Linked DNA regions of Homo sapiens. The protein of the gene in region 1 interacts with the protein of each later gene in a pairwise test. Each region holds a gene or a part of one and is shown on either strand. Other genes may lie near its edges.

The links. The genes of interacting proteins can lie anywhere in the genome.
Region 2: the proteins of ELOVL5 (region 1) and SYS1 interact in binary tests that used the Homo sapiens proteins (3 or more experiments, as listed by UniProt).
Region 3: the proteins of ELOVL5 (region 1) and C2CD2L interact in binary tests that used the Homo sapiens proteins (3 or more experiments, as listed by UniProt).

Annotation. Positions count from the first base shown.
Region 1 is NC_000006.12:53,289,943-53,296,964, reverse strand, and holds part of ELOVL5 (very long chain fatty acid elongase 5), read left to right. Parts: intron 1-1,257; 5' UTR 1,258-1,265; coding exon 1,266-1,323; intron 1,324-2,473; coding exon of another isoform or gene 2,474-2,682; exon of another isoform or gene 2,683-2,877; intron 2,878-5,001; coding exon 5,002-5,189; intron 5,190-7,022. UniProt on the Homo sapiens protein: Catalyzes the first and rate-limiting reaction of the four reactions that constitute the long-chain fatty acids elongation cycle.
Region 2 is NC_000020.11:45,358,584-45,366,176, reverse strand, and holds the start of SYS1 (protein SYS1 homolog), read right to left. Parts: upstream 3,022-7,593; 5' UTR 2,862-3,021; exon of another isoform or gene 2,809-2,861; intron 2,649-2,808; 5' UTR 2,646-2,648; coding exon 2,484-2,645; intron 559-2,483; coding exon 491-558; intron 1-490. UniProt on the Homo sapiens protein: Involved in protein trafficking. May serve as a receptor for ARFRP1.
Region 3 is NC_000011.10:119,110,343-119,117,364, reverse strand, and holds part of C2CD2L (phospholipid transfer protein C2CD2L), read right to left. Parts: intron 6,805-7,022; coding exon 6,685-6,804; intron 6,519-6,684; coding exon 6,408-6,518; intron 6,314-6,407; coding exon 6,197-6,313; intron 6,103-6,196; coding exon 5,991-6,102; intron 5,845-5,990; coding exon 5,736-5,844; intron 5,038-5,735; coding exon 4,973-5,037; intron 4,884-4,972; coding exon 4,756-4,883; intron 4,666-4,755; coding exon 4,491-4,665; intron 3,755-4,490; coding exon 3,653-3,754; intron 3,514-3,652; coding exon of another isoform or gene 3,511-3,513; coding exon 3,377-3,510; intron 3,286-3,376; coding exon 3,000-3,285; intron 1,341-2,999; coding exon of another isoform or gene 1,321-1,340; coding exon 1,109-1,320; 3' UTR 1-1,108.

The sequences.
Region 1 (7,022 bases):
ATGATTTCGTGGATAAAGTAGTTTATCTTAAAATTAGCCAGTGAATACATAACGCTTCAGTGTGGCAAGCCAAGGAAGAGAAGTATTGCTAAATGATTAACAGCTTAGTTAATAAAATCAGTTCTGCCTTTGCCCTTGGACGTTATAATATTGATGATTATTCCTGTAAGAAGAATGGCCAGGAAAGTTGGAAAATCTAGTCAGTATGCATATGAAAAGTTGATTAGCTACCCTCTAAATGTAAATCTTAAATTGGGGAAGGTAGGGAGCTATAGAATCTTAGAAGATGGAGGTAAATCTTTAACTGGTATCTCAAGATGTTTTATTAAGTGAAAATAAGCAAGTAATATATACACACTTCTATATATAATAGTGTTTTTTTAGTTTTTTTTAACTGTGATCCCCACAGTAAGAATATATTTTACATCACAGCTAAGTACATTATACTTATAAATATGATATAATAAAACTAAAGTTTTATAAAACTATATTCATTCTCACTGAGAGCAAAGCATTCTGATTCTCTACTATGATCAATTATTATTTTTAATGCTAAGTTGACATGATCATCTACTAATGGTAGATTTCACCCACAATTGTGAAAACATCCATTTAGCATGACCTCTTTGTGCTCAAAAGAGGAGAAATCTCTGGAAGTATATTGAAGAAATGTTACCATTAGGTTCCTTGTGATGCGTGGCTTGGGGATTGAGGTTGAGGGAAGTAATGAGATTTTTGCCCCTTTTTTTTAATTTTTAATACTTGAATTTTTTTTTACTGTAGATATGAAGTACTGTAAAATAATAATTGATAAAAGTAACAAGCGGAAAAAACTGTCTTGTCACTGTGGCATTCTGTTCCCTGATATGGCTCTTCCTTGTCTTACCTCAAGTCCTCAGTTGTTGCCCAGACAGGATCTCTTCCTGTCTGCCACCTCTCATTCCAGTTAGTTCCACTTTTTTCCCCACTGAGATTTCAGCTTCACGGAAAGAGTTTTTATGGAACTAAGAAAAGAAGTTCAGAAAACTGGCACTTCATTTATAAAGTGAACTCACAGAATTGTGTCTTTCCTTTTGATCTTCAAGTTAGATCTAGCACAGAAGTCACTTCTGTGAATTAAATTCTTTTAACCTAAGGAACTGAACTTAACCTTGTCTGTAGCATATTCTTTGAAAAGAATTTATTCTTTTATGAAAAAATACTGTATAAAAAACATTTTGAGTAGAGATTAATCAGTATCTTTTTTTTTCTTAATAGGTTTTCAAATGGAACATTTTGATGCATCACTTAGTACCTATTTCAAGGCATTGCTAGGCCCTCGAGGTAAGGTGGTTTTTGGTTTTGCTTACCTTCTGCAGCATCACTCCCTGCCTATAGTCCCTTGTAAATATTGCATGAGGAGATAGTAGAAAATGTTAGCATTTTCTATGATAAGTCTAAAACTTTATCCTGGATAACAAGGAATTTGGAGAAGTCTCTGACAGAGACACCTGCTGTGGGTGGTCCTCCGTTGACTTTAACTGGAGTTTAAAAATATGCTGTAAAGCTTGTAGCCTGAGAATACTATAGATTTCACCATTATCAGTGGCATTTTTTTCTCAATTCTTGGCAGTCTTTAAGAAAAACTAGTTTCCAAAATGCAGTGTTGCAATAGGAGTTTAAAACCTTTCCCCTTTTACAATTTTAAGGGCTTTTTAAGGTCTTCTCATTTTGTATCATGTTAACTCACTGGTAAATATGCACCTGAACCTTACTTGCTGTATCTTTTAGAAAGTAAATCAGCTTCATATTGCCTTCTTTTGATGTCATCTGTAAAAGTCTTTTAAAGTCTTTTGTATAAAGAACTTCTTAGGCTCACAGAAAAACTAGAAATGGCTTTTAAACAGACAAAAAGAATCTCAGTTTCTCATGATTTTTAAAACACAAAAGAAATAACAAAAGGACTTAGTCTATTAACATGGCAGAGATGAAATAATAGGTTTCATGTCACCTATGATAATAGTGATAATAGTGAAGGCGTGGAGAAAGAGTACAACCTCTCTGAAAGGCTGTTTTGCCTTCTGTTGGAATTAAAATGCACATGCCCTTTTGCCTAGCCATTCTACTCCTAATACTTTATCCTGTGGCTAGCCTTGATTAGTTATGCAATGATACATATCAGGATGCTCATTACAGCATTGTTTTTCAAGGAATCATCTGGATGCCTGTCAGTAGGGGAGAGGTTCTGTAAATTAGTGTATGGCCCATTGAAAAGAACAAAAAAGAATAAGTTAGATCCATCTGTATGTGCTTGGGTTGGGATAGTGCCTTACTTTAGCTGTAAGGGACAAAAAATCCAACTCTAAATGGCTAAAATAATAATAATAATTATTAGCTTGCATTACCAGGTGGAGCAATTCCGTAGTTATTTCAGGGACTGTATGATGTAACCAAGGATCCTTGTTCTTGTCATTTTCTACTTTGCCACTTCCAGGTATCAGCAGCTCTGTCCTCAGAATGGGTCCCCCACTTCACACAGTTGTAGGATGGCTACAGCAGCTCCAAGCAGCACATTCAGAGGAAGAAGAAAAAATGTTTCATTTGTGTGGTTTTAAGCATAAAGAAGTTGTTTCCCAGAGCTCTTTGCCAGCTGTCATCCCTCAAAACTCACTGGCCACAATTGCTTCACATGCCCCTGCCTGAACCAGCCACCAGAGGGGGTTAGGACCACCACAGATTGACTAGATCCTAAGGATTCTCTACCTGGGGCTGGAGTTCGGGTCAGGTGCCCGGGAAGCACTGTGCGGTGTGGGAGGATGAATATGTGCCAATTTGGAAAGATGAGTATTTGTGGGAAAATGAATAAAGCAAAGTGTAAATCAGAGGTTTAAGTTAAAATAGGGAGATTTGTGTGTATTTATTGTTTGTGATATATATGTTCATACAAAATAACAGTCTGATGTTAGTTGCTAAGTGGGAACTGGTTTTCTTAAAATTGACAGCCAAGGCCCAAAGCTGAGAACAAAAGGTGTTAAGCATCCCCTTAAAGTCCCTGGGGCCAGCCATTTCCCTGAATGACTTCTAAGCACAACCAGTTCTGCCGGACTGACAGTAACACCCTCCGTGACCATAGCATAACTAGTGGGGAGGGTGTGGAGGGCATGTCCCTCTGAAGCCAAAGCAAGCCAGCCATGAGAGAAATGCTGGGAAAGTTTAGTGTGTACAGTGCAAGAAAGGAAGACTGACTGACAGTTCCCCACGTGGACATATGCTTTATTGAGCCTGTTCTTGTTCTGTGAAATCAAGGTGAAAACGACTGGAGAGAGTAGCAAGATGGTCCAGTCTGGGAGGGGTCAAAGAAAGGGCAGAGCCGGGTGTGGTGGTTCACTCCTGTAATCCCAGTACTTTGGGAGGCCAAGGCAGGTGGGTCCCCTGAGGTCAGGAGTTCCAGACCAGCCTGACCAATATGGTGAAACCTGGTCTCTACTAAAATTACAAAAATTAGCGGGGTGTGGTGGTGTGTGTCTATAGTCCCAGCTACTCTGGAGGCTAAGGCAGGAGAATCGCTTGGACCCTAGAGGCAGAGGTTGCAGTGAGCTGAGATCACGCCACTGCACTTCAGCCTGGGCGACAGAGTGAGACTCCGTCTCAGAATAAATAAATAAATGAATAATAAAAAAATTAAAGAAATGGCAAAGGCTGTCCTCCCAACTGCTGCTTCTCTGAAGACGCAGTAGGTGAATGCTGCATGTGCCTCATGTTCTGGAGTTGTGAGCCTTGGCGGGTAGTTAAGATTGAGGAGCCACAGGTTTTCGGGGAACATCATAGCAGGGTTCAAAGGGGAGCATGCTTTTCAGAGGTAGCTTCCTGGGGTCAGCCAGAGTATGAAGCTGAATCTTTCAGGGGACACATAACACTTAGGGGCTCTGGCTGCCAAGGAGTTTCCCGCCATCCAAGAAGAGGTTGTCAGTTTGCTGCTGGCGGCTGACCTGTTTCCCTCTCCCTCCTCCCTGCCTAAGAAAAGGAATAGGGGCAGGAGAGGCCCTTCCTATACCAGTATCTCCTCTGGATCCGCCTAGGTCTTCGCTCTCATGCTACTACTCCTCAGTTTGTTAAATACTGCCCTTTAAATAGGCATTTATCTGATCATTGCTGCTTCACCTTCATGTTTTGTTTTGTTTTTATTTTCATTTTTGAGACGGAGTCTCACTCTGTTGCCCACGCTGGGGTGCAGTGGTACGATCTCAGCTCACTGCAGCCTCTTCCTCCCAATTTCAAGCGATTCTCCCACCTCAGCCTCCCAAGTAGCTGGGATTACAGGTGTGCAGCACCATGCCTGGCCAATTTTTATATTTTTAGTAGAGATAGTGTTTTGCCATGTTGGCCAGGCTGGTCTTGAACTCCTGACTTCAGGTGATCCACCCGCCTTGGCATCCCAAAGTGCTGGGATTACAGGCATGAGCCACCACACCCAGCCCTTGTTTTGTTTTTAAATCATTGTCCTCTCTGCTGTTGACCATTACACTCATAGCAAAGGCTGCCTTTCTAATTAGTGCCAGTTTCACTAACGTGGCTAAGCAGCACGTTTTCTGAGTCTGCATGTGCTGGCCACACTTGCCGACTGACACACAGCTGAGATGGAGGACTTCAGAGTTCAATGACTGCCATTTCTTGGGTTTTATCACCCTATGTGTAATCTGGTATACCTGGTTAATAAATCCAATTAATGGGAAGTGTAGCCTTCTCCTTGTTTTCTTCTTAAGTTCTTTGGAAAGAATATTTGTATTATTATTTTACTGAGCAAAAATCATGAATAATACATTGTTATTCAGAGCATGTAACAAGGAGCTTCACCTTGTTTGATATGTATTGAAAATCCATGCCTCCTCTCCTGATTGCTTTATTGGAATTAAGAACATGAATACCAGGTGACTTTTATATCATCATGGTTAGAGAAATTTTTTCAACGTTTGAAAAGTTGTGAATGTTTTTATATATCATTAATTTTTTTTAATTTTTCAGATACTAGAGTAAAAGGATGGTTTCTTCTGGACAATTATATACCCACATTTATCTGCTCTGTCATATATTTACTAATTGTATGGCTGGGACCAAAATACATGAGGAATAAACAGCCATTCTCTTGCCGGGGGATTTTAGTGGTGTATAACCTTGGACTCACACTGCTGTCTCTGTATATGTTCTGTGAGGTAAGTCAAAGGTTAACACAGTCTTCCTTTCACATAAATGCACTCATATTGCTGTCCTAAATTGTATTCCTAAATGAGGAAAGGTGGCCGCTTGGGGTGTAGAGACAACTGGGCAAGCAAGTATCTTAATGCGTTATGAGTGTGTTTTAAAATCGATTTTTCAAAATGTCAGAGTTGTTTGTACAAGTATGCCTTCTAGAATATCTAAAATAGAAGCCTTTGTTATTGATTCTTCTATTATGTTTCGTATGATATTCAAAATTAAAGTATTTTCAGAAATACTCTCATGCAAGCAAAATACAGAGTGGAAAATGAACAAAATGTGAAAAACACATGTGAAAGCATTTTATTATTAAGCATCTAATAAGTGCCTGCTTCTTGTTTGAAGGTAGGGGAGGAAGGAAGTGGGTGGCACTTGTGTTTGGTATGTTTTGTGGCACATCACCCTCTCTGATTGGATAACTTGTCAAATCTCAGTTGTTTTTTAAAAGCTAAGAGGAGTGTGACTGGTGAGATCTGCATTTAGGTTTTGAATTGTCTGTCTGAGTTCAGGCCCAGTTATTTTATATCACTGCAATGTTGAAAATCACATTTGATGATCTCAAAGGCAAATGTTATAGCTTAAAAATGAAAGAAAAATCAGAATCAACCCTTCTCTTCTCCCTATTTTGAAGGGGTAACACTATAGCCTTTAAAGCTAAAAGGGGGAGGAAAGCTTCCCTCTGGTGGTAAGCAGTTTGTGTACATTTTTCCAGGAAAGCCTACCCACTTTTCATTCTTACAGCACCAACCTATTTCTAACTCTTCTGGAGAATTAAGCCCTGGATAAAACCTATACAGGCACTCCTGTATAGGTTTTCAGGGTTTCATTTTGGTTTTAGTTCTTCAAGGAGTAGTAAAGAAGAAGGTAGAGGTGGGAGGAAGAGGAGAGATAGAAACATGAATCTTAAAATTAGTGTTCAGGGGTCAAAATGAATTCTCCATCAGCCTCAGGCCATGATGGTGTCTCCCTGTCTACGTGTGGTGGTGTGCAGGAGTGTGGGCGTGTGCAGGCATATTTGATTATCAGAGGTGTTGCAGCTGTGGGATATCTGTGTCTTGTTCTCCCATGTATGTTTCATAAGCCAAGGTACAGATATTCTGAATAGAATGGTAGATGTTCCTAGCATTACTTTTATGCTTGACATGCCAAGAAATGCTTACAACTCCTTTTTTTGCTTTTTTTTCTGTCCTATTCTAGAATGAAGTCAGTTTAATTAGACTCCAAGATGGAGAGTTCAGGACTGGAGCCAGGGGAAGTGCACAGGAGTGACTCCTGGCCCCAGCACTATGCACATTTCTGTGTTCAAGGGACAAAACCACAGCAAGCTGTCAGGTTTCTGAGTGAACTGCTTACTTTTCCATAATTGATAGATAATACAGCCATGTCTTTAAGAGAACTCTTACAGAGTTTATTATTATACATGGCAATATTAATAGAGAAAAATATTTCATGTGATTTTTAGAGAACTTAAGCATTTGCCTTAAATGTTTCTTAAGCCCTAGAAATATAGCTATAATTTCATTATTTATCCTCTCTTAAACAGATGATTCCCTGGTAAAGAGAAGAAAAACACTGTATAAAGTACAGCTGTGTGCATCTGAGTGGATGTGGGGGGTTCTGAACACATTGTAATAGAAGGTACAGATTTTCCTCTGATAGCTTGGTGAGAAGAGAAGACTTTGAGCAGTGACTAAGCACTGAATACAGAAATTTAAGAAATATACAGAATAGGGAAACTACATTTTTAACTCACAGTTTAGAGTACATAGAGAGGTAATAGACAAAGAGGC
Region 2 (7,593 bases), on another chromosome or scaffold:
AGGTTCAATGCCAAATGAGTCTGCCTCCAGAGCCTGACACCTTGACCACTATGCTAAACTGCCTCTTAAGAGACAGGCAATGATTACGTGTGACCTTAGACATCACTGAGTCCAAACCCTCATGGACAAAAGAGGAGCCTGAGGCCCATGGCAAGTAACTTGGCCAATGGCACACAAACCAAGAACAGAACCCAGTTCTCCTGCCTCTCGGTCGAATCCTTTCTCAGCTCACTCCACATCAGGGAAGTTATCTGAGATGGAAGTTGTCTTGCAGGCAGCACAAACATAGTGACATAAGAGCTTTCCAGGTAAGTCAAAACAGCAATGGAAGGAGGCCCATTATACAGCTGGTCCCAGAACTGGCCTCTGTCACCCACTTTACTCCACCACTCCCCAGAAACAAGTGCCAGCCTGTCTCATGTTCAAACTTAGGAAGTTAGTCCCAGCACTAAGAGCCCAAAAGCTGGATAGCAAAACTGGTGATACTCACCAGGTGAGGGCGTTGAGGATGAAGGACATCATGGAGAGCCGGCCTGGAGGGGTGGAAAAGCCCAGGATCTGAGGGGGAATCACAAATGGAAATATACTGGAGAAGTGACTTGGCAGAGCCCCAGGATCTCAGCAAGCCTCCTAAGGAACAAGCATTCTTCCCAGAGCACAGAAGATAATACCTCCCTACATCTGTACGGCAGCCTATTTCCAATAGGTGCTTTCATAGACATCCATTATGGGATTTCATTTGTTTCTCACAGCAGGTGGAAAGGGATTATTCTCATTTTACAAAGGAGGACGTAAAAACTCAGACAAGTTAAGTTGCCCAAAGTAATAAACAACAAGAGTAAAGTCTAGAACAGCGTTCAGCTGACTATGGCTCCATAGGCCTGGCATCTGCTCCTGTACATAAGGTTTTATTGAAACACAGCCACACCTATTCACTTATATATTTGTCTATAGCAGCCTTCTGTGCTACAATGGCAGAGCTGAATAATTGTGACCTAAAATCCTTACTACTTCACCCTTAAAGGAAAGGTTTGCTGATCCCTAGGCTAGAACTCAGGTTGTGTGCATCATATGGCTCTTCAACAAAGCCTGGCATTCCCACAGCTCTTCCCAGGAGCATAGAGTCTCCTACGAGACTACAACTAGGCATATGGTGGGTGTGCAACCTCCACTATCCAACACAATACTATCAAATGCCAAACATCTGCACCACACTTTCAGCTGACAAAGAAAGGTCTTTGACATACATAATCTCATATTATCCCTAAAAAAACCTCACAAAGCCATTCTTCTTCTTTTAATTCTTATCACTTTTTGGATAATAACTTGCCCAAGGGCTAACACAGAGAACAAGCAGCAGGAGCAAGGACTCCATCCCAGGTCTCCTGGCTTTAAGAACTGTGCTCGGCCGGGCGCGGTGGCTCACGCCTGTAATCCCAGCACTTTGGGAGGCCGAGGCAGGCGGATCACGAGGTCAGGAGATCGAGACCATCCCGGCTAAAACGGTGAAACCCCGTCTCTACTAAAAATACAAAAAATTAGCCGGGCGTAGTGGCGGGCGCCTGTAGTCCCAGCTACTTGGGAGGCTGAGGCAGGAGAATGGCGTGAACCCGGGAGGCGGAGCTTGCAGTGAGCCGAGATCCTGCCACTGCACTCCAGCCTGGGCGACAGAGGGAGACTCCGTCTCAAAAAAAAAAAAAAAAAAAAAAAAGAACTGTGCTCATCACCACGCCACAGCTGCCTCTTAGATGTAACAACTTATAGGCCTCCTTTACACTTTACAAAGTACCTTCTTATTCCTAAACCCCTCTGGGCCTTGTAACATTTTGTTGAGGGCAACATGGTAGGAGCATCCGGCCCACTTTTCAGAAAAGGCTCAGAAAGGGGAAGCAACTTGCCCAAGGTCCCACAGCTAGTTTTATATGTTTAGGCCTAGACTGAACCCTTGCTTTTCTGAACCCAAAGCACATGCTCTTTATATTGCAGTCCACGACCTCTCTGCAACTAGTCTCATGGTTTTGAAGACAGGAAAACAAGTTCACAGAGGTGACATTTGCCCCAGGTCACACAGCTAGTAAGTGGATCTTAAACGGACGCCTGTCTGACCCCAAAGTCCAGGCAGTTTCCACTGTACCCGCACGAATGCTCTTTTATCCACCCCTCTCTCCGATGTGGCACCTGAGAACCTAGCTCAGAGAAATCAAGTCACTTTCCCAGAGTATCAGAAAGGAAATGTATCAGAGTTGCCTGGAACACAGACGTGTTTATTGTATTAACATCCAGGCCCTTTTCTTTGTACTAATCAGCCTCTGCTGTCATTCCATTTTATGGATGAGGCAGCTGAGGCTCAGAAAGGTGAAATCCCTTTCCCAGGGCTACAAAGAAAGAAGGTGACCCAGCCACGTCTACAGCACAGTAGTGATGGACCACAAAGCCTACTCGGGGAGGCCGAGACCCCACCCGCCCCAGTCCGGGGACCCTACCTCGGCGTCGAACATCTGGTCCAGCGAGGGGCTGCTTCGCACTAGCCCGTCCACCAGCGCCAGCCACAGGCCCAGCGAGCCGTAATACACGGTCTGCATGAGGACGATCTGCGACAGGATCAGCAGCGGGTCCCACACGTAGCTGCGGAACTGACCCGCCATGCCCTGCAGGGACACGAGCCGGGCCTCAGCCAGCGGCCTGTCTCCATGGCAACGTCGCCCCGCCCGGGAGGAGGGACTGGAACCAAGGGGTGAGCCCATTCCAAGAGTCAGGGGGAAGGCGGGGCAGACAGACCCATTCTCAGAGTGAGGGGAAATCCAGCCCATTCCGCCTGCGCGGCCCCCGCCCGTACACGAGCTCCTCTGGGGTCTACTCACCAGTGACAGACTCGACGATCGAAGTGTCTGAGCGTGGCCCGGCCTCACCGGCGGGCTCCCAAAACAGCGCTGACAGACAGGACCATGGAGGAGAGGCGCTGCCGGCCTAGAGAGGCAAAGCTCCAGCGACCACGGCGGCAGGAGCGGCTGCGTAGGAAAGAAACGTTTCCGGGGAAAGCAGCGGAGGGGCGGGGCTGAGGTTGCGCAGGCGTAGTGGGTGCAACCTCTGCCTGAACCTCCTGAACCAGGTACAAGCAGCCGGATAGCGAACTGAGCACATGCGCAGAAGGAAGAGTGAAGGCAAACGGAAGAGAGGAACGAAGGCCGCAGAGCTTGCGCGCCCTCTAGAGGGGAATTCTTTTTTTAAAGGAAGGCGGCTAGGGGAGAGGCAAGTGGGGTGGCTTAGGACGCGGTAATGATGTTTGGGAATTAACGAGGTGATAAACTGTGTCGTTATTTTCAGCCTAAATTCTCAATGTTTTCTCCTAGTTAGAGTCTGATAACTTGAAGTGGACCTGCAAGCTCCTCCACGTAGGAGTTTGCCAATGTTCCCGCTGTACAGATAGTTAAGCTAAGGGCCAGAGAAGGAAAGCAACATACTGTTTCAACGACACAGTTAGTAGCAAAGTAAGTATTAAAATTCAAGTGTTGGTCGGGCGCGGTGGCTCACGCCTGTAATCCCAGCACTTTGGGAGGCTGAGGTGGGCGGATTACCTGAGGTCGGTGTTTCGAGACCAGCCTGACCAACATGGAGAAACCCCGTCTCTGCTAAAAATACAAAATTAGCGGGGCGTGGTGGCGCACGCCTGTAGTCCTAGCTACTCGGGAGGCTGAGCCAGGAGAATTGCTTGAACCCGGGAGGCAGAGGTTGCAGTGAGCCGAGATCACGCCATTGCACTCCAGCCTGGGCAACAAGAGCAAAACTCCGTCTCTAAATAAATAAATAAATAAATAAATAAATAAATAAAATTCAAGTGTTTCCTCAACACTACAACATTGATTTCGCACCTACTCGGTGGCAGGAAGGCTAGAACATGTATATATAAGACAGCCCCTGCCCTGAGACACAGATGAACTATATTAGAAGGCAGAGTAGTGGGTGTTTTAAAATGTGGGTGTCCAGTGGAAAAAGGCACAGGTTCTGAAGTCGCACATAGGAGTAAATCCTGACCCTCTCTGCTGCCATGACTGTTTTATCTATCTTCCAAATCCGAATAGTGGACAGTCAGTAAATATTTGCTGAATGAGTTAAGAACAGAAAAAGCAAGAGCAAATCGATAACTCACTTATTCCTACTCCAGCAGACGAAAACCCATCAACTTCATTGATCCTAGGTTCCCCCTCTCTGAAGTGGAAAGACGGGAAGTAAGTTGTTCCAGGAAAAGAATTTGGGTTTTAGGGCCAGCTATGCCACCCAGTGTGACCAGCAAGCCACTTCCTTCTTTAAACCTCAGCTTCCCTGTTTATGAAATGAGGAGTTGGACATGATTAACGTTTTCCACCATTTAATCTACCTTCCAGTAATTATTTTCTCATTAAAAAAAAAACTTAGGCTGGGCACAGTGGCTCATGCCTGTAATCCCAGCACTTTGGGAGGCTGAGGCGGGCAGATCACAAGGTCAGGAGTTCAAGACCATCCTGGCTAACATGGTGAAACCCCATCTCTATTAAAAATACAGAAAATTAGCCGGGCCTGGTGGCAGGCGCATGTAGTCCCAGCTACTCGGGAGGCTGAGACAGGAGAATGGCGTGAACCTGGGAGGCGAAGCTTGCAGTGAGCCGAGATTGCGCCACTGCAGTCCAGCCTGGGCGACAGAGCGAGACTCCGTCTCAAAAAAAAAAAAAAAAAAACGTATCAAAGAGCCATGTAACTGCCAATCAGAATTTCTGAACAGCTTGTGGTAGCCGTGTTATCACCTTGAGCTGATACAATTCCAGACAAAAGTAAAGAAACTTGAGACTTTATTGAGAGTGTGCGATTGTCCTTATCATTTGGAAATACCCTGAACAGTTCCCCTGGACTCCAGTTGGGGAGTTATTAAGGCCCAAAGATTTCTTAGGTGCTTTCCAGCTCAACCATTCTTTTAGGCACCTCAATTCAGTCCAACAAATATGTATTCAAATTCCTCTAGTTCACTGATTATGCACATGATCTAGTGTTTCTGAGAAAACATCTGTTTCTTAAGTGCCTACATGATCTTGTTTAATTCTCACAATCTGAAAATATAGCTATTGTCCCCTTTTTATAGGGGAGGAAACTAGGCTTGGGGGGAGGTGGTGTGACTCTCTAGGTCAGAGAGCTCACAGGGAGCAGAGCTGAGATTCAAATTCAGGACAACTGACTCCAAACATCAAGATGACTTTTAGTTTAGTTTTGGTTTGGTTTAGTTTGGTTCTTTGAAACAGGGTCTCAATCTGTCACCCATGCTGGTTTGCAGTGGCGCAATCATGGCTCACTGCACCCTCAAACTCCCAGGCCCAAGCCTCGGCCTCCCGAATAGCTGAGACCACAGGCATGTGCCACCACACCTGGCTTTTTTTGAAACGGAGTCTTGCTCTGTCGCTCAGGCTGGGGTGCAGTGGCATGATCTTGGCTCACTGCAACCTCCGCCTCCCGGGTTCGAGCGATTCTCATGCCTCAGCCTCCTGAGTAGCTGGGATTACAGGTGTGTGCCACCATGCCCAGCTAATTTTTGTATTTTTAGTAGAGATGGGATTTCACCATTGTGGCCAGGCTGGTCTGGACTCCTGACCTCAAGTGATCTGCCCGCCTCAGCCTCCCAAAGTGCTGGGATTATAGGCATGAGTCACCATGCCTGGCCCGCACTTGGCTTTTTTGATTTTTCATTTAATTTTATTTTTTTGTAGAGACAGGGTATCCCTATGTTGTCCAGGCTGGTCCTGAACCCTGGGCTCAAGCAATCCTCCCACCTTGGCCTCCCAAAGTGTTAGGATTACAGGCATAAGCCGCTGTGTCCAGCCAAGATGCCATTTTAGAATAAAAGAACAGGAAAGAAGGGAGGAAGGGAGGGAGGGAGAGGGAAATAAAGGAAGGGAGATAGTAAAATAGGTGGTGGAGTAGCAGGAAGTGGAAAAGGGGCAGTGAATCTCTCTGCTCAGTTAGCCCTGGGGTGAGGGATTAGGGAGAAATGGGAGGAAAGGCTTAGAAAAGGGCTGCAGAGGTTGACAATACCCAGGGCAGCTGTCTTCCTTGCAGATGCTGGAATGCGTGGCTCTTCCTGGGCTCTGCTCCCTTCACGTCACAGCTGGGCCCACTCCACCCCATCTCCTCCCAATAGGAAAGGCCCTGCCTACCCATTCTGCTGAACTAGAAAACACAGGTAGCTTTTGATATTAGGGCTGGCTGGAATGTCTGATGTCATCCCTGGAGTCCGGAGCTCACCTCTGGGAAAACCCCACTGGGCGTGCAAGCTAACCTCCTGCCCTTTCCTTTCCCCTTTGGGAGTTCAGTTCTTGGATTCCCGCCTTGCCAAGCTTCGGAAATGTACATCATCCTCCGTCTTAATTTGGATCCAAGAAGGAAACCAAGAGCTGGGGAAAATCATGGCAACCCCTTTGTTTAGCTTCATTGGCCCATTTTCAAATTTGACCACAAGCAGTCTGCTTCAGACCACAGAGTCTGAACTAGAGCCCCACTGGCTTGCTATGTGACCTTGGGCGAGTCCCCTGGTGGGTCCCAGTATCCCAAACTATCAAATGAAAGAGGGACATTGGACTCCGACTTGCAGATGCTGTCATGGCCCTGTGCCATCTGAATCACCTGAGGAACATACTGGATATTCAAATTTCCAGTCCTTGTTTGCAAACCTAAGTCCAGTTCAAGTCTCCCAAAGCAGAGTGTGGAAATCTGTGTATTTAGAGAGCTCCCCAAGTGATTCAGAGGTGCACCCACATTTGATAACTACAGCACAAGATGATCTGTAGTTGACCCTAAACCGGCTCCTTCATCCAACAGAAAACTGCTCTGTGACCTTGGCGAGTCACATTCCGGCTTCAGGGTTTTCTTCCATCTGTAATATGAGGGGATTGGATTTGAATAGCTAGCTGGTCTACGAGGGTTCTTCCTACGCTGCCAAGTCTGTGGTTCCAAACTTATGAATGAAATGTTAAACTTCAGGTCAGAGGCAGAGTGACGAAAAGCCACAAGCTGGGACAAACTGTCCTTTGGGTGGAGGGGAGGGGAGTGCCTCTGGTCACTTGGTCTCTTTCGTCACTTTCACACTGGGGCCCCACTGCATGCATGTAAGGACAATCGCTAAGGTCACCTTCTGGATCCACCCCCATAAATCCCTTGGGAAATGTTCTCCCATAGGCCCATAGGCTTGAGAGCCCTGCTTAGATTCGAATCCTGGCTCTCTGGCTGTCTTGCTGTCCTGCTGGGTGACCTTGGGAAAGTTACTTCATGTCTCTGAGTCTCAGTTGGTTTCCTCTTCTATAAAGTGGAGTTCAGAATAGTACCCATGTTATGGGCTGTCCTGAGGGTCAAATGTGTGCTTAGTCCACTGCCTGATATGCAGTGGGCACTATGTTAACCTCAGCAATGTTAATATGATTGTTATTATTTCTTCCTCTGGAATGTGGGAACGGAAATGCCTGATCTCAGATTTATGGCAAGGATCTAACAATGTATCAGACAAGTCAAGCCCGGTGGCTGGCCCATAGTAAGAGCACATTAAATGTGATACCTTCTCTTCCTCCTCTCACCCCTACT
Region 3 (7,022 bases), on another chromosome or scaffold:
GGGGAATGAAGACTAACCTGTACTAGTTGATTGAGTTTTTTGCTACAATTTCATACTCCAGAGCCTCCTGTCTCTTCCATCCTTTCTCTGCACACCCCTTCTTCCCTGCAGGAACTTCTTAGCAGATCCACAATGTGTGTCATCTACCCAACCTCATTATCCGGGCCCCTGTCTCATCCTCCCACACCATCCATGTCACAGCCTGGCTGCCTACTGCCTTTCAAAGGATAACCAGTTGTCCAGTTTATAAACTCCAATTTGACTTTAATAAATTAAATTCCAAGCCATCACACAGCAATGGACATCATCATCGTCTCCCAACACACAGAGGTGCAGCCTTGCGTGGCTCCATCATCACAGTCTTTAAATAAAGCCCCTAAAGCCATCTCTCTGGGGAAGGCTTCCCACCAGGCTCCCGGCTCCCTCCTTCCCACAGAGCCACTGCTCACAGAGAAGGCATCAAGTACAAAAAACGGTAATAAAGGGGGAGGGAGGGATGAGGAGCAGGAGGGGAGGCAGGAAGGTGGGGAGTACCTGCCCCCCATCCCGGGCCGGCCCTGCTCTCTGTGAGCTGCCAACATTCTCAGAGGCAGACACTGGTGCTGGTCTGAGTGGGGACCTGAGGGAGGTGTGGGAGCCCCATCCCAAAGGGAATTACCCACCCTCCTGGGACAGAAAAGAAGGGTCACCTGGGAGAGATGCCCTCTATCATCTGTTCACGGAGGGTCCTAAGCCACACATATAAATAGAAAAGAGAATAAATAAGGGAAGAAGGGTCAGCTGAAGAGCTGAGCACCCTGGGACTCCGCTCAGGGACCAGGCTCAGCAGGAGGCAAATGCTTCTGGGGAATACCCACACATGCCGGACAGGGCCCTCCTCTCCCTCCCAGCCACCAGTCCCTCGTCCATGTCCTCGGCACCGGGTGCCCACCTCTCATGTGCTTCCCGTTCCAAGTATCCTTCCAACCGGCCCCATGGCCCAGGGTGGACGGGGCTTCCCGGAACCCAGAGGGCTTTCCTGGCCCAGGCACTGGAGATCCAGGAAGGGGTATGGAAGGGGAGGTGGGGAATGGGCTGAGAGAACTCGTGCCCTTTCAGAGCTGGGTCCTCAGAGCTGGGGGCTGGGGTTACCATTGGCCTTGGGTTTGGATTTGAAGGAAAAGCGCTTGATAAGGCGGCGAGAAAAGCTGCCGGCCTTCTTTCGGACACTGGGCGTGGCCGTTGCGTTGGAGAGGTCATCGTGTGATTGGCTCAGGCCAGCTTCCTTCTGCCTAGGCCTCCGGCGGAAGATGAGCTTAGTGCCGCTGCGCAGGAAACTCACTGCAGGGGAAGAGGGGAAGCTGAGGCAGAGAGGGGCACGGGGTGGGGTGAGACGGGGGCAGAGACACGATGGAGAATGGAGGGAAAGAGGATGTGGACAGGATCAGTCCCGTGGCCCAGAAGCCAGGCTTCCTCAGGAAAGAAAGCAGAAACATACTTCTCCATAAGGCTTCGTGAAAAAAAGAAAAAAGAAAACGAAAGCAGAAACAAACATGTGCTTTATCCTTCCTGAGGCAAAAATCGTGGTACTTGTGGGGATCTGTGTACAATCTTAACTCTGCCCGCAAAAGAGATATCACGGAGCTGGCCGCTTTGTGAGGACAAACTGGGATTGGGCCTCTTTCCTATGGGAAGACAAAAGCTACCAGAAGGTACTCCCAAAAGTCTATAAATCATGAAGGGAAAGGTAGGTTGACACTGACTTGTTAACCGAATTCCAGGCTGTGAGCAGGAAGTGGTGCATCTAGAAACTTCAAAGAGGTAAATTCAGAACCAGTATAATGAGCAAGGTGCTCACCCAGCAGGCTTTGGAGGTAGAAACCTCATTATCTCAAGAAGTGATGCAGGCTTAAAAAATAGATAGATAGATCCATGGTTGATAGTCTCACTGGTAGAGGAATGAAGATGTTTTAGGGTGAGCCTCTCATCTTTTAAAGTTAGAAGAACTACCACCACTGGTCACTGCCTGTCTTGCTGCCAGATGGATAATCCAAGGGTAGGATTTCTTATACTCATTGGGGAGAGGGTGCAGATTGAAAGGGAAGAATTTTTTTTTTTTTTTTTTTTTTTTGAGACAGAGTCTCACTCTGTCACCCAGGCTGGAGTGCAGTGTCATGATCTGGGCTCACTGCAACCTCCAACCCCCCAGTTCAAGCGATTCTCCTGCCTCAGCCTCCCAAGTAGCTGGGATTATAGGCGCCTGCCACCACGTCTGGCTAATGTTTGTATTTTTAGTAGAGATGGGGTTTACCCATGTTGGCCAGGCTGGTCTTGAACTCCTGACCTTGTGATCCACCCGCTTTGGCCTCCCAAAGTGCTAGGATTACAGGCATTAACCACCGTGCCCAGCCATGGAAAAAAAAAATTTTTTTTGAGACAGGGTCTCACTCTGTCACCCAGGCTGGAGTGCAGTGGCACAATCACGGCTCACTGCTTCAACCTCCTTGAACCTCAACCTCCCAGGCTCAAGGAATCCTCCCTCCTCAGCCCCCTGAGTAGCTGAGATTACAGGTGTGTGCCACTACGCCCAGCCAATTTATTGTATTTTTAGTAGAGATGGGGTCTCGCCATGTTGCCCAGGCTAGTCTTGAACTCCTGGACTCAGGTAAGCCACCCGCCTTGGCCTCCCAAAGTGCCGGTGTGAGCCACCACACCCTGCCTAGGAATAAATTTTTATAATTTTTTTTTAAAGGGCAGGAAAAATGGCACTTAGACTCAGGAAGAAAGAACAATGGAGGTAAAGGGAAATAATTTGGCATCCCTTCCTATCACAAGCATGTCAGATCTAGGCCAGGAACCAAGGCACCAAGATCCCCCTCTAGGCTAGCTTGGCTGAACTAGGCTGGGAATCCGGCTATCTCTTAGGGGAGGAAGGAGAAGGCACACTGGCTCGAGGTCCCCCAGGTCATGATATGTGTATAAAAGAAGAGATGAGGGGCACCCTGCCAACGTCCCCCTACCTTTGTGATCCTTGAGGCTGCGGGTCTCCAGGGCACCAGTGGACCCCGTTTCCGACTCAATATCATCCACAGATGGCCTCTCAGAAATATCCGAACGGGTTGTCTCGTCTGCTTCCTGGACACTTGTGGGACTAGAGAGGGCATCTAGCGGTCCTGGAGACATGGCTGGTGGGTCTGAGGGAGGTGAAGAGGGGCCTCCGCTGGTCCCTGCATCATCCTGCACTGAGGCTTCCAGGGATGCCGCATAGCCCAGGGATAGCGCCAACTCGTCCTGAGCAATGGGCACCTGGCAGGAGGGACGGGTTTTAATGGGCAGGAGTGACCGACCCATTAGGGCTTTCTCCCCATCCCAGCTCCTCTCCCCAGAGCCCTGTTACCTTGGAAACACCAGAGATGATGAGAGTGCTGCGCTTGGTGGGTGTCTTCTTGGCCACCCGCCCACTGGGCTCTGTCAGCTGGCGAATCGCTGTCTCTGCTACAGGGTCCAAGCCGTTGGAAAGGTGGCTGTCCCCTGCTAGGGGTGCAGAGAATGAATAACCTGACTTCTCCCTGGCTCTTTCTTGGATTGGAACTCCTCCTATCCCACCCAGAGTACTTTTTGATGCTGGGGCACCAGGGCCAACCCACACTCATGCACCCCATTCCCCACTCACGGCTGCTGCTATGGGAGGTATTGCTGGGGCCACTGCTCTCACTCAGCACAGTTGTCGTCTTCTCGGTCACCTCCACCTTGGACGGGGAGCGGGAGGGGGAGTCTGGTGGGTGGGGGAGGGTCAGTGAGCTGGGAGTTGCTTCAGAGTGGCCCCCACCCCTACTGTCTTTGTTGAGATGCAGACTTTGGGTGACTCAGAGGGCAAGAATGATTAAAGGGTGATTAATCACAAGGGTGATTAGGAAGATGCCGTGGGGACTAAAAGACACCCCAGGAGCTAATGGGAGTGTAGGAAAGTGCCATGGGGCCTGCTGAAGGTGTGGGGAGATGCTATGAAAATATGGAGCGGGGACAGAGGGGGTACTGGGGCTCCCTGAAGTTGGGGCAATTCAGTGGGGCCCCTATAATGGCAGAAGTGCCATGGGGGCCCACTGAGTGGGGTAGAAATGCCACAGAGGCCTCTGGGTTTGTTGGAGGACCCCAGGGGGTGCTGGAGGGCTGAGGGTAGCAGGATGGACAATTATAGTCAGCTGGGGCTAAGGACACCTGTGAAAAGCCAGAGGGGAAGCTGGAAGGTAGGAGTGCAACAGTCCTGTATGAGGAGGGGCAGGAGGATCCAGAAGGGTGGCAGAGTGAGAGGAATTGCTGGGGAAATGGCAGGAGGTAAGGGAAAGTTTGGAAGAGACAAAGATTGGGAGGAAGATGTGGTAGGACTGGAATGGAATGTCTGAAAACAGGGGGAGTTGGAATTAAGGCTCTCTCCTCTTTCACTGTCCTGCCTTGGGTCTGCAGTCCCGGGCCCCTGGCTAGAGCTGGGCTCCCAGGCTCCTTCTCTTTACCTAATTTGCCGTCTATACGGGGCCGGGACTGGACAGTGGTGACTGTGGTGACAATGGTGCCATCGGGCATGATGGTCCGGTCAAGCTCAATCTTCTTGGTAGGTGTGATGCTGGGGCGTGGAGTGGAGGAGGTGGGAGTACCCAGGTTCCGGGGAGAGCCCTCCTCATAGTGAAGCTGCCCAGGGGTGGGAGAGAGAAGAGACAGAGCCTCGGAGACTGCCCATCCCCTGTGTCCTCCCACCTACCCCAGGGGTCAGCTTCTCACCTCCACTGCCATGGTGGCTGCTGGTCCCAGGGCTTTCCCTGGCCCTGGGGTGAGTGGGCACAACTGTCTTCGAGACAGTGGTCTGGAGGGGGAGCCCACAGGCAGTGTGGCCTGGCCTAGGAGTTCGGCTGGGGAAAGGGATGGCACTGTGAGCTGGGCCCATGGCCAGACCCCACTCTGTACCCACCCAGGGGTGCCCCTCCCACCCCTCACTTACTGTCTCCACAGCTGCTGCTCCTCAGCACTTTGAGGGTCAGCTCCCGGCTCTGGGGGCCCAGATCCCTGTGGGACAAGAGGAGATGGGGCAGGAAGGAGAAAATTAGCAAGCTGAACCCACACTTGAGTGGATCACAGGCCAGAGGCAGAGAGCTGTGTACATAAATAAAACGGCATAAATGCTCCAATCAGATTCTCCTGGCCTCCAAATTCTCTCTCGTCCCAAGAGAAAGGGACAGGGCCTGAGTGGAAACCATGCTTCTCAGCTATGCATTCAAATCCTCCCTGGTCCTGCTCTTCCTGTCTTGCCAGTCTCTCAGTTGCAAGCCACCCTCTTTCATTTGCTCCAGCTCTTCCCTCTGCCGAGAATACTTTCACACTCTGATGAAATCCTACTCTTGCTCTAAAGTGTGGTTTAAATGTCATCTCCTCCATGAAGCCTACTCTGATCCTTATTCCCTCATGGGAATTAATCTCCCCCCCACCTAGGCACTCTGACGGCACATTACATAAACCTCAACTGGAGCGGTTTTACCATCTTCTTTATGTACACCTGTCTCTGCCTCAAGCTTGTCATTGACCCAGGGGTGGGGGCTGTATCTTGGTCAAGTCTGTATCCCTAAGACCCACGCCAGGGCCTGGCATACAATAGGAGCTCACGCCAAAGGCTACTGAAAACAGAGCTGATTCCTGCAAGGACTGTGCTGGAAAGGTTTGATCCTCTCTGCTCTGGAGCATGGGGTCGGGGCAGGGTTACTCCTTACAGTGCCAGGTCTTCTGTCCACTCCACCTCGGATCCAGCCCTCGCGGGCTTGGTCCACTTCTGCTGCATGGGGTTGTCGAGTTCAGCTACACAGCACAGTTCCTCGGTGCCTGTGATGAACCAGAAGTTAGAAGATGCTCAGATCAGAGATGGGAAGTCACTGCAGAATAAAGAGGCTGTACCCTTGGCAGAGGGGCAGAGAGCATCTGCAACCAACCATAGCCTTGGCAGTCCCGCAGCCACTTCCAGCTCTCACCTTCCAGCTCATTTCCCAAGTGAGATGCCCGAAGCTGCCGTAGGAATAACCGGTTAGGTCTGGGGATGGCTGGCTGAGCCTGGGGCATCATGGGTGGCTTCTCACTGGGTACCTAAGAGCAGAAGAAGGTCCAAAGAGCAAGAATCCTGACATAGCACCCTAGGAACAAGGTGCATGCAAATCTTTTGCTTTGGGTGCCAACTCACCAGGCCTCCTGGGGCAGAGCAAGCCCTGAGGTTGACCATCATGGCTGGCTGGGTGCTGACTATGGCATCCTTGATCAGTTCCTCAATTGTGGAGAGCTCCACTTGTTCTTCACCTCTCTGCAGAGAGAAGAAGGGAACAACAAGGAGGTGGATCCCCCACCTCTGCCTCCCTCCCCGTTCTGCCTCTTCTCTGCCAGCTCTGCCTCCTTACCTCCCTGGCCTGAAGCTTGGGAAGCACCGTTAGGCTGAGATCTGGGCGATCAGTGAAGGCCCAGGATATGAGCAGCCCCTCACCAGGGATTTCCTCCAGGTTGACTTCCAACTACAGACAGGAACAAAGTGACTGGGCTGACTTGCCCCATTTACCCAAGGACTCCTAATTCGAGGACTCTCCCTTCCTGAATTCCATCCCAGAGAGGAAACAAATGGAAGAAGCTGAGCCAATGGAACCGCCCCTGCCCAACTCAGTTTCCCACATCCCCTTCTACCTGTGTTGGTGGCAGTGTCAGAGTGACGTGGTAGGTCTCCATGGAGACGGCAGCGGGGGACTGCTGGGTCACAGAGACTGGGAACCGCACCTCCTCAGCAGAGAGCTGGCAACGCAGCACCTGAGACCGGCGAGGTGGGTCAGATGTGGGGGAAGGGTGCTCACCCTGCTTTGAACTGCCCTGTAATAGTTCAGCAGACCCCTCCCCACTTCCGTTTTCCTAAGGACTTCATGTTTTCAGGATCATAAATCCCTAAAAGAATCAGATAAATGCCAAAGACTCCTCTCCCCAGAAAAATGCATATAAACACACATCCAACATTTTGCACATAACTTCAA